3 separate regions of the Homo sapiens genome follow, and all the other regions are reported to be linked to region 2. Evidence: microRNA targets listed by miRTarBase, many of them from high-throughput screens and not tested one by one. Region 2 holds a microRNA gene; each other region holds the end of a gene's coding sequence.
The links. The annotated mature microRNA hsa-miR-4510 reads UGAGGGAGUAGGAUGUAUGGUU and lies in region 2 at 1,602-1,623, opposite strand. An mRNA with a match to its seed (bases 2 to 7 or 8) in the 3' UTR can be bound and repressed. Matches are read on the target gene's strand: a 7mer-m8 pairs with bases 2 to 8, a 7mer-A1 pairs with bases 2 to 7 and ends in A, and an 8mer does both.

Region 1 (3,000 bases), not on the chromosome of region 2:
TATCCTGTATGGGAAAATCATCCACCTGGAGAAACCTTTTGCAGTCCTTGTCAAACACACTCCTGGGGATCAGGACTGTGATGAGCTTGGCCGCGAGACTGGCACCCGGTACCTGGTGACAGCACTCATCAAAGACAAGATCCTTTTCAAAACCCGCCCCAAGCCCATTATCACCAGCGTCCCCAAGAAAGTATGAAAGAACCTCGGATTTTCCCTAGAGAGCGGCCAACTCCTTGGACTCGTGCTCCGCTGCCACCTCGAGGACGGCTCGACGGTTCCCTGGGACCACAGGGGGGTCCTGTTCTGAACACAGGCCACCCACTGGGTGTGAACTCGGATCCCTTCCTTATGGCGGCCGGTTCTCTTGGTGGAAATCTGACCCCATTTCCAAGGAACCCATCTCCTTTTCCAGCTTCATCAGGCTCATTGGCTTCAAATCCAGCACCTTTCCCGGCTGGTGCTCGTGACCCAAGTATGGCTTCTTTTCCAAGAGGGATGAATCCCACTGGCACAGGTGCAGTTTCTTTCCCAAGGCCTGGTGGCCTCTTGGGGCCAGGCCCAGGCCCAGGCCCCACCCTAAACCCTAGGACAGGGGCTCTGCCAGGCCCAGGGCCTCTGTCTAACCCCAGGTTAGGGGGTCTCCCAGGACCAGGTCCTATGTCCAACCCAAGGGCAGGTGGTCTCCTGGGAGCAGGTCCTGACCCCAGAGGTGGTGGTCCCATGGGCCCTGGATCTGGACCTAACCTGAGAGCCGGTGTTCTGTTAACCTCTGGGAATGGTCCTCCCAATCCTAGGCCAGTTGGCCTGGGCCCAGGACCAAACCCCAATCTGAGATCAGGCTTTTTAGGGACAAACCCTGCCCCCAGGTCAGGTGTGTTTCCAGGCCCAGGCCTTGGGCCCAACCCAAGACCAAGTGGCCTGGGCCCAGGCCCTAATCTAGATGCCAGAGCAGGTGGCCTCTTGGGCACAGGATCTGGTCTTAACTTAAGAATGGCTGGACCTCAAGGCCTCGATCTTGCCCCCATTCTAAGAGCAGCAGGTCTTTTAGGAGCAAATTCAGCTTCTTTCTCACAGGCTTCTGGAAACATGGGCACAAGCCCATCCTCCATGGCAAGAGTACCTGGCCCCATGGGCCCAAACTCGGGTCCTAGCTCTCGGGGAATTGGCCTTCCAGGGCCAAATCCATCTCCCATGTCAAGGGCTCCTGGCCCCATAGGCCCTAATTCAGCTCATTTCTCAAGGCCAGTTGGCCCCATGGGGGTAAATGCCAATCCCTTTCCCAGGGGAGCAGGTTCATCTGCCTTTTCTCAGTCTTCTGGCACATTGGCATCAAACCCAGCTACCTTCCAAAGGTCCGCTGGCCTCCAGGGCTCAAATCCAACCATTTTCCCAAGAGCCTCTGGGCCACTTGGCCCCAACCCAGCTAACTTCCCAAGGGCCACTGGCCTGCAGGGTCCAAGTCCAACTACCTTCCCAAGGTCTACTGGCCCATTAGGCCCTGGTCAAGTTACTTTCCCCAGGCCAGCTGCCGGGCATCTGGGCCCTTCTCCAGCTGGCCCTGTGGGTATCAACCCAGCTCCTTTCACAAGGCCAACTGGGACCCTGGGTCTCAACCCAGCTTCCTTTCCAAGGATGAATGGCCCTGCAGGCAAGAGTTTCGTCCCATTTCCTAGAGTGGGGAGCCTCCCTGGCACAAACCCAGCTGCTTTCCCCAGACCAGGGGGTCCAATGGCTGCAATGTACCCAAATGGAATGTTGCCCCCTTAAACACCATTTTCCCTCCAGGACCACCTTGGTTTCTAGGCACTGTGGTTCTTGGCAGGGGCTGTCTTAGGTAAAAGGGTAGTTGTGGAGCTACAGTCTGAAGAACATAGCTTGGGCTCAAGTTCAAATGAGCCATCTTTTTCCTTTGCGTTTTTCTTGACTGAAGGTGAGATGTTATTTGTGGCATGTGAACTGTGGCAGGTGGGAATAATCCTGCCCTTGAGAGAAAGGATCTCCAGCCTCCCAGAAGCCTGCTGTGCTTTCGTCCCACAGCTTTCTGCCCATTGTTTCTTACTAGTTTCTTGAATTGTTCTTGTGGACTTTTCCTCAGGGATACATTGGCCTGCAGGTCCCAGTTCACATGTAGTCCCCTGCTCACCATTGGAGAATCAGCTCACTGCTCTCTAGAAACGTGGCGTTGGTGAACGGACCATGCTTCCGTAGCTCTGACCTGGGCAGCTTGGACCTGGTCATCCTCTACTGCCATACCTTTCCCTGGGGGCTTGAACACAGAACAGGGAGATGGACAACCACTTCAAAGAAAGACCCACCGAATGCAGTTTCTGCTTGACTGACTGGGCCTGCAGCTCCCTTCTCCTGGGACTTAGAGGTGGCCAGATTTAAGGCCCCTCTACTCATCCAACTCCCTCTTCACTGGTACTCCCAATCAATCAAAGAACCTCAAAATTTAAACTGATGTGGATGGGAATATGGGAATTAGGGTGGGGGTGGGGGATGAAGGGAAGAAATCACTGTGCTTTGTTCGGCCTGGTGTGCAAGGATGGTTGGTGGTTTTCCTGCATTGTATCTTTTCTTACTGTTTCTTTAATAAATGGGATGAGAGGGCTGCTGGTGTCACTGTGTTTTGTTACCTGTTTCATAGGGAAGGAAGTTTCCTCTGCTTTTCATTGTTTCAGCTTGGCTACAGTCTTACATCATGTCGGCTAAAATGCTTTTGCTCCAAGAGGAAGCAAGCTTTGGTTTTTAGTCTTAGCAAGGGCCCATTCATCTGCCAGTTAGTTATTTCACCAAAGACCCTCTACACTAAAAGTTAAGCCCCCATGGGTGTAGTTACCAGGATGGACATATTGCCCAGGTCTTGAGTCCCACCTGACTAAACTTTCTATTTTAAGTCCCTCTTTGGAAACTGGAATAAAGAGCTAGCTTTCATTAAATACAAAGTAGTAGTTTCGAGATAACCGGCATATGTGAGAATCTTTATTTTGACAAATAAGT
Region 2 (3,151 bases):
TTGGAAAAATAAACTTCTAATGGTGTAAGGACAAAATCACAATGAAGAAGAGTGTGTAAAGTAGCAAATTATATTGTGACCATCTTTGGAAAATATGATCTATCACATCCTCCAAGAGCTCTCTGTACTCTGGAATCAAAGCAGATATAAAGAATACAAATAAGTATTTTGGGAATATTATTTAAGGCATGGTATAAAGTTATGTAAGCACTGAACTGTAAGATGTAGTGACTTTGACATGTAAAGAAATTGATTATTTAATTGTGAGGACAGGAAAGAGCTCTAGACCAAAATTCTCCTTCTGGCTGTATATTTTATTAGCTATGTAGCCTTGGGATAGTAACTGGGCCTTCTAACTGTGTCTATATAACAAGAGGTCTGGATTGGATAATCTGTAAGAGACATTATCATTCTTAATAACTAGGAAACCATGGGCTTGATGCCTATTTGCTTACTGCGGGTCAGGGAGAATAATATGGTGAATGAATTGCTTATAAATCAAAATAACACATTTTGAACAGGGTTTGCTTTTCTGGGAATCAATAATTGACATTAAATACTGTAGAGAAAGTTATTGATGACATTGATTGTTAGATTAGTCCTTTGGCTCTAGAGTCAAAGGAAGGCATTTCCTAATGATCTTCTATAATATACAAACTTTAAGTTTCTTTTCTATGTATTTCACTCTAATGTGAACTCAAATAATCTCTGACCTGCTAACAGATGTGGAAGCTGACAAATTTATTTGTAAGCAGAATAATTACCTCTTAATATTGATTTGTAAATCCATGTTGCCATTCATTGAATTTCTCCAAGTAGAAACAAGATATATCCAGGTCTACGACTGTGGATGGCTACATGTGGATCCCTACTTAATATTGAATGAGACAATGCATATCTGTCACAAGGTAATATATGATAGCTGTATCTAATTGCATATAAAAGAGGACCAAGCCAATTGACATCTCTCTGCTCTCAAGAAAACAATGTGAGCAGGACATAGATGTGTCTTGTGTTCCACACAGGGGGATTTTGGAGTTGTGGTAAATGAGATGGATTCTCTCCAGCGAACAAACCAAGAAAGGGTTGGAAAACAATATAAAATGGTCAGACATCTTCTGGATAGAGATTGTAGCGGAGTTTAGCATAGGATATGAGCCTTGCTAGGTTTTTCTATAATGACAAGTTTAAACAGGACCAATTTGCATTTTTATAAACAGCAATCACTTCCTAGAATTCTAGGGTTTCCCAAATCAAACTCCTGAATGTCAGTCTCTCCCACTTCAGTCATGGGTAACTGCCCTCTCTCTGAGCATTACCCCTCATTTATCTTAAGGAAAATGATAGACCAGTTTGTAGCATATCCTAAATTCTCTACTTAAATTGTGCTGCAATAGACACACAATGAGACACCATCAACTAAGCAACCACTGAATGACTATTACATACAAGACACTGTATTGGAGGCTATCAAAGGGTATATTCATTCATTCATTCTTCTTCTTTTTTTTTTTTTTTGCTTATTCCATGAACATTTCTGAGTGCCTACTTAATGACAGGCTCTGTCTGTTGTGAGAAAAGATTGTAGTTGTCTATCTAACAACCATACATCCTACTCCCTCACATACACACTATTCCACAGAGGCAACCTGGTATTCATCTTAAAGGCAACAACTCTGGGGCCAGATCACCTGAGTTACAACCCTGCTGTCACTACTGAATAACAGTGTGACCTTAATTAATTAATTAATTAATTAATTAATTAATTTATTTATTTAATACAAGGTTATCTTGCTGTCTCACCAAGGGTGAAGTGCTTTGGCATGTCCATAGCTCACTGCACCCTCAAACTCTTGGGTTCGAAGGATCCTCCAGGTTCAGCCTCTTGAGTAGCTAGAACTACAGGTCCACACAATCACACCTGGTTAATTTTTAATTTTTTTTGTAGATATGGGGTTTCACTATGTTGCCCAGGATGGACTCAAACTCCTGGCCTCAACCCATCTTCCCACCACTGCCTCCCAAAGTACTGGGATTATAGGCATGAGCCGCTGTGCCTGGCCCTTAAGTTACTTAATATCTTGATAAGTTATAGATAATAACCACCTCATATAATTTTTGTATTAAATGATTTAATACACATTTCTATATCTCTTTATGTATGTTTAATAACTCTTAGAATAGTGCCTCCCTTGTTGTAAGTGCTGTGTAAGAGTTGATTTTGTTCAAGTCTTGGTAGGCCATATCCTTCAAAGGAGACTAAGTCCCTTCTCAGCTGAAGGTGCATATCAACTCTGGTTGAAATGACTCATGTAAATTCCATTCTCTTGTCCATGATGTAATGTCATTCTGTCCAGTAAAATGTGAGGGGAAGTCTGGGGTGGATTTCTAGTACAGTTTTTCTGACTTTTATGAAAGAACATAAGGAAGAGATGGTCTATCTTCTCACCTCTGGAAGTTATTGTTGAGGATATAAGGTTGGAGTAACTTGGGGATGTGAGGGGCCACGTAAGGACAAACACGAACATTCCAAAGATGGCAGAACAAAATGTGGAAATGAAATGGATCCCTGAGCCATTCATTGAGCCCTTGAAGTCAGTGATCTTGGAACATACAACAGGACTTGTCAGACAATAAAGATAACAAAGCCCTCATTGTATGAGTCATTTTGCTTGTTTTCTGTTACTTGCTGGTGAGGTCATCAGGTGAACTGACACATCGTTCTTCCCTGATCATGAGGATTCATGGTATCATTAAAATTTCTTTTTTATTTAAACAAATATGAGAAACGAAACACGCTCAGACTTTCTAGTAAGGAAAAACAAAAGCCCACCTCAGAGGACGAATAAGCAAGCCATTTACCCTAATTCAGGTGTGTGGTATTTATTTTAATATGTATAAAAATTACAATAGATACAAGTGTAAAATGGTGTGAGATTGATTTCATCAGTCTTGTCACATAAGAAGAATAAACCTCTGGGTCACTCTCCGCTGCACGATGGCATAATAAATAAGGAAAACATGGTCATGACTCCTTCTCTATGAGAGATGCGATAGTTGATTAAGTGCAATCTATTAGTAGCTGCCAGTAACAAGAAAGGTTAATTTAAACCAGATAGTCTCAGGTTTCAACCTCTTCTATGGCTGCAAA
Region 3 (3,000 bases), not on the chromosome of region 2:
GTCCCAGACCTGGTGGATTTTCAGCCACCCCCTGAGCTGGTGCTGCGAGAGGCTGGGGAGGAGGTCCCTGACGCTGGCCCCAGGGAGGGAGTCAGTTTCCCCTGGTCCAGGCCTCCTGGGCAGGGGGAGTTCAGGGCCCTTAATGCTCGCCTGCCCCTGAACACTGATGCCTACTTGTCCCTCCAAGAACTCCAGGGTCAGGACCCAACTCACTTGGTGTAGACAGATGGCCAGGGTGGGAGGCAGGCAGCTGCCTGCTCTGCGCCGAGCCTCAGAAGGACCCTGTTGAGGGTCCTCAGTCCACTGCTGAGGACACTCAGTGTCCAGTTGCAGCTGGACTTCTCCACCCGGATGGCCCCCACCCAGTCCTGCACACTTGGTCCATCCATTTCCAAACCTCCACTGCTGCTCCCGGGTCCTGCTGCCCGAGCCAGGAACTGTGTGTGTTGCAGGGGGGCAGTAACTCCCCAACTCCCTCGTTAATCACAGGATCCCACGAATTTAGGCTCAGAAGCATCGCTCCTCTCCAGCCCTGCAGCTATTCACCAATATCAGTCCTCGCGGCTCTCCAGGGCTCCCTGCCCTGACCTCTTCCCTGGGTTTTCTGCCCCAGCCTCCTCCTTCCCTCCCCTCCCCGTCCACAGGGCAGCCTGAGCGTGCTTTCCAAAACCCAAATATGGCCACGCTCCCCCTCGGTTCAAAACCTTGCACAGGTCCCACTGCCCTCAGCCCCACTTCTCAGCCTGGTACTTGTACCTCCGGTGTCGTGTGGGGACATCCCCTTCTGCAATCCTCCCTACCGTCCTCCTGAGCCACTCAGAGCTCCCTCACACCCCCTCTGTTGCACATGCTATTCCCTGGGGCTGCTGTGCGCTCCCCCTCATCTAGGTGACAAACTTCCCTGACTCTTCAAGTGCCGGTTTTGCTTCTCCTGGAGGGAAGCACTGCCTCCCTTAATCTGCCAGAAACTTCTAGCGTCAGTGCTGGAGGGAGAAGCTGTCAGGGACCCAGGGCGCCTGGAGAAAGAGGCCCTGTTACTATTCCTTTGGGATCTCTGAGGCCTCAGAGTGCTTGGCTGCTGTATCTTTAATGCTGGGGCCCAAGTAAGGGCACAGATCCCCCCACAAAGTGGATGCCTGCTGCATCTTCCCACAGTGGCTTCACAGACCCACAAGAGAAGCTGATGGGGAGTAAACCCTGGAGTCCGAGGCCCAGGCAGCAGCCCCGCCTAGTGGTGGGCCCTGATGCTGCCAGGCCTGGGACCTCCCACTGCCCCCTCCACTGGAGGGGTCTCCTCTGCAGCTCAGGGACTGGCACACTGGCCTCCAGAAGGGCAGCTCCACAGGGCAGGGCCTCATTATTTTTCACTGCCCCAGACACAGTGCCCAACACCCCGTCGTATACCCTGGATGAACGAATTAATTACCTGGCACCACCTCGTCTGGGCTCCCTGCGCCTGACATTCACACAGAGAGGCAGAGTCCCGTGCCCATTAGGTCTGGCATGCCCCCTCCTGCAAGGGGCTCAACCCCCTACCCCGACCCCTCCACGTATCTTTCCTAGGCAGATCACGTTGCAATGGCTCAAACAACATTCCACCCCAGCAGGACAGTGACCCCAGTCCCAGCTAACTCTGACCTGGGAGCCCTCAGGCACCTGCACTTACAGGCCTTGCTCACAGCTGATTGGGCACCTGACCACACGCCCCCACAGGCTCTGACCAGCAGCCTATGAGGGGGTTTGGCACCAAGCTCTGTCCAATCAGGTAGGCTGGGCCTGAACTAGCCAATCAGATCAACTCTGTCTTGGGCGTTTGAACTCAGGGAGGGAGGCCCTTGGGAGCAGGTGCTTGTGGACAAGGCTCCACAAGCGTTGAGCCTTGGAAAGGTAGACAAGCGTTGAGCCACTAAGCAGAGGACCTTGGGTTCCCAATACAAAAATACCTACTGCTGAGAGGGCTGCTGACCATTTGGTCAGGATTCCTGTTGCCTTTATATCCAAAATAAACTCCCCTTTCTTGAGGTTGTCTGAGTCTTGGGTCTATGCCTTGAAAAAAGCTGAATTATTGGACAGTCTCACCTCCTGCCATAGGGTCCTGAATGTTTCAGACCACAAGGGGCTCCACACCTTTGCTGTGTGTTCTGGGGCAACCTACTAATCCTCTCTGCAAGTCGGTCTCCTTATCCCCCCAAATGGAAATTGTATTTGCCTTCTCCACTTTGGGAGGCTCCCACTTCTTGGGAGGGTTACATTTTTTAAGTCTTAATCATTTGTGACATATGTATCTATACATCCGTATCTTTTAATGATCCGTGTGTACCATCTTTGTGATTATTTCCTTAATATTTTTTCTTTAAGTCAGTTCATTTTCGTTGAAATACATTTATTTAAAGAAAAATCTTTGTTACTCTGTAAATGAAAAAACCCATTTTCGCTATAAATAAAAGGTAACTGTACAAAATAAGTACAATGCAACAAAATAGTGTTGATATTCATTGCCTGCGGTAAACCTGTTGTCTCTTAAAGGGGAAATGAGAAGCTGCTGGGGAGCTGTCGAAGACATCCCAGGGCCAAATGCAAACTTCCTCCTTGAGAGAAAGGAAAAGGATTGTAAAGGGAATATCTTTTTCACTAATAGGAGTCAGGACTGTCTGTCTTATTCTGTGTCCAGGTATCAGCTCATGGCCATATCCCACAAGTCTATGCCTGGGGAAATATTGCACTTGATGACGAATCTCTCTCTCTCTCCTCTCTCTCTCTCTCTCTCTCTCTCTCTCTCTCTCTCTCTCTCTCTCTCTCTCCCCCCCCCTCTATCCCCCTCCCTCCAGATAGGTAGATAGATGATAGATAGATAGTGTCCTGATAAAAGTTGGACCAGACCAGGGATGGCAATTCCTGGCATTCATAAAGCCACACTCATGGCAGACATTACTAATCAATTGCACCCATGCACGGCAGACATTTCTAATTGAACACAGCTCTCCTCCTGCAGAGCCTGGG

Region 1: the mRNA of CHTF8 is a reported target of hsa-miR-4510. Seed matches in the 3' UTR shown: 7mer-m8 at 2,408-2,414.
Region 3: the mRNA of IL2RB is a reported target of hsa-miR-4510. Seed matches in the 3' UTR shown: 7mer-m8 at 472-478 and 8mer at 823-830.

Annotation. Positions count from the first base shown.
Region 1 is chr16:69,117,621-69,120,620 of GRCh38, reverse strand. CHTF8 (chromosome transmission fidelity factor 8) reads left to right here. Exons shown (of 4, transcript NM_001039690.5): 4 at 1-2,611. The coding sequence ends at 196. HAS3 (hyaluronan synthase 3) reads right to left here. Exons shown (of 4, transcript NM_001199280.2): 4 at 2,961-3,000. It overlaps DERPC (DERPC proline and glycine rich nuclear protein), which reads left to right. Exons shown (of 3, transcript NM_001002847.4): 3 at 1-2,611. The coding sequence starts at 193. The coding sequence ends at 1,767. Among named protein-coding and RNA genes, the nearest start is that of CHTF8, 13 kb to the left of the region's middle.
Region 2 is chr15:35,925,335-35,928,485 of GRCh38, reverse strand. It overlaps MIR4510 (microRNA 4510), which reads right to left and starts at 1,630; the gene lies at 1,563-1,630. All of the region lies in intron 1 of LOC105370766 (a long non-coding RNA gene), which reads right to left.
Region 3 is chr22:37,125,318-37,128,317 of GRCh38, reverse strand. It overlaps IL2RB (interleukin 2 receptor subunit beta), which reads left to right. Exons shown (of 10, transcript NM_000878.5): 10 at 1-2,475. The coding sequence ends at 222. Among named protein-coding and RNA genes, the nearest start is that of TMPRSS6, 17 kb to the right of the region's middle. RefSeq lists an enhancer at 1,121-1,170.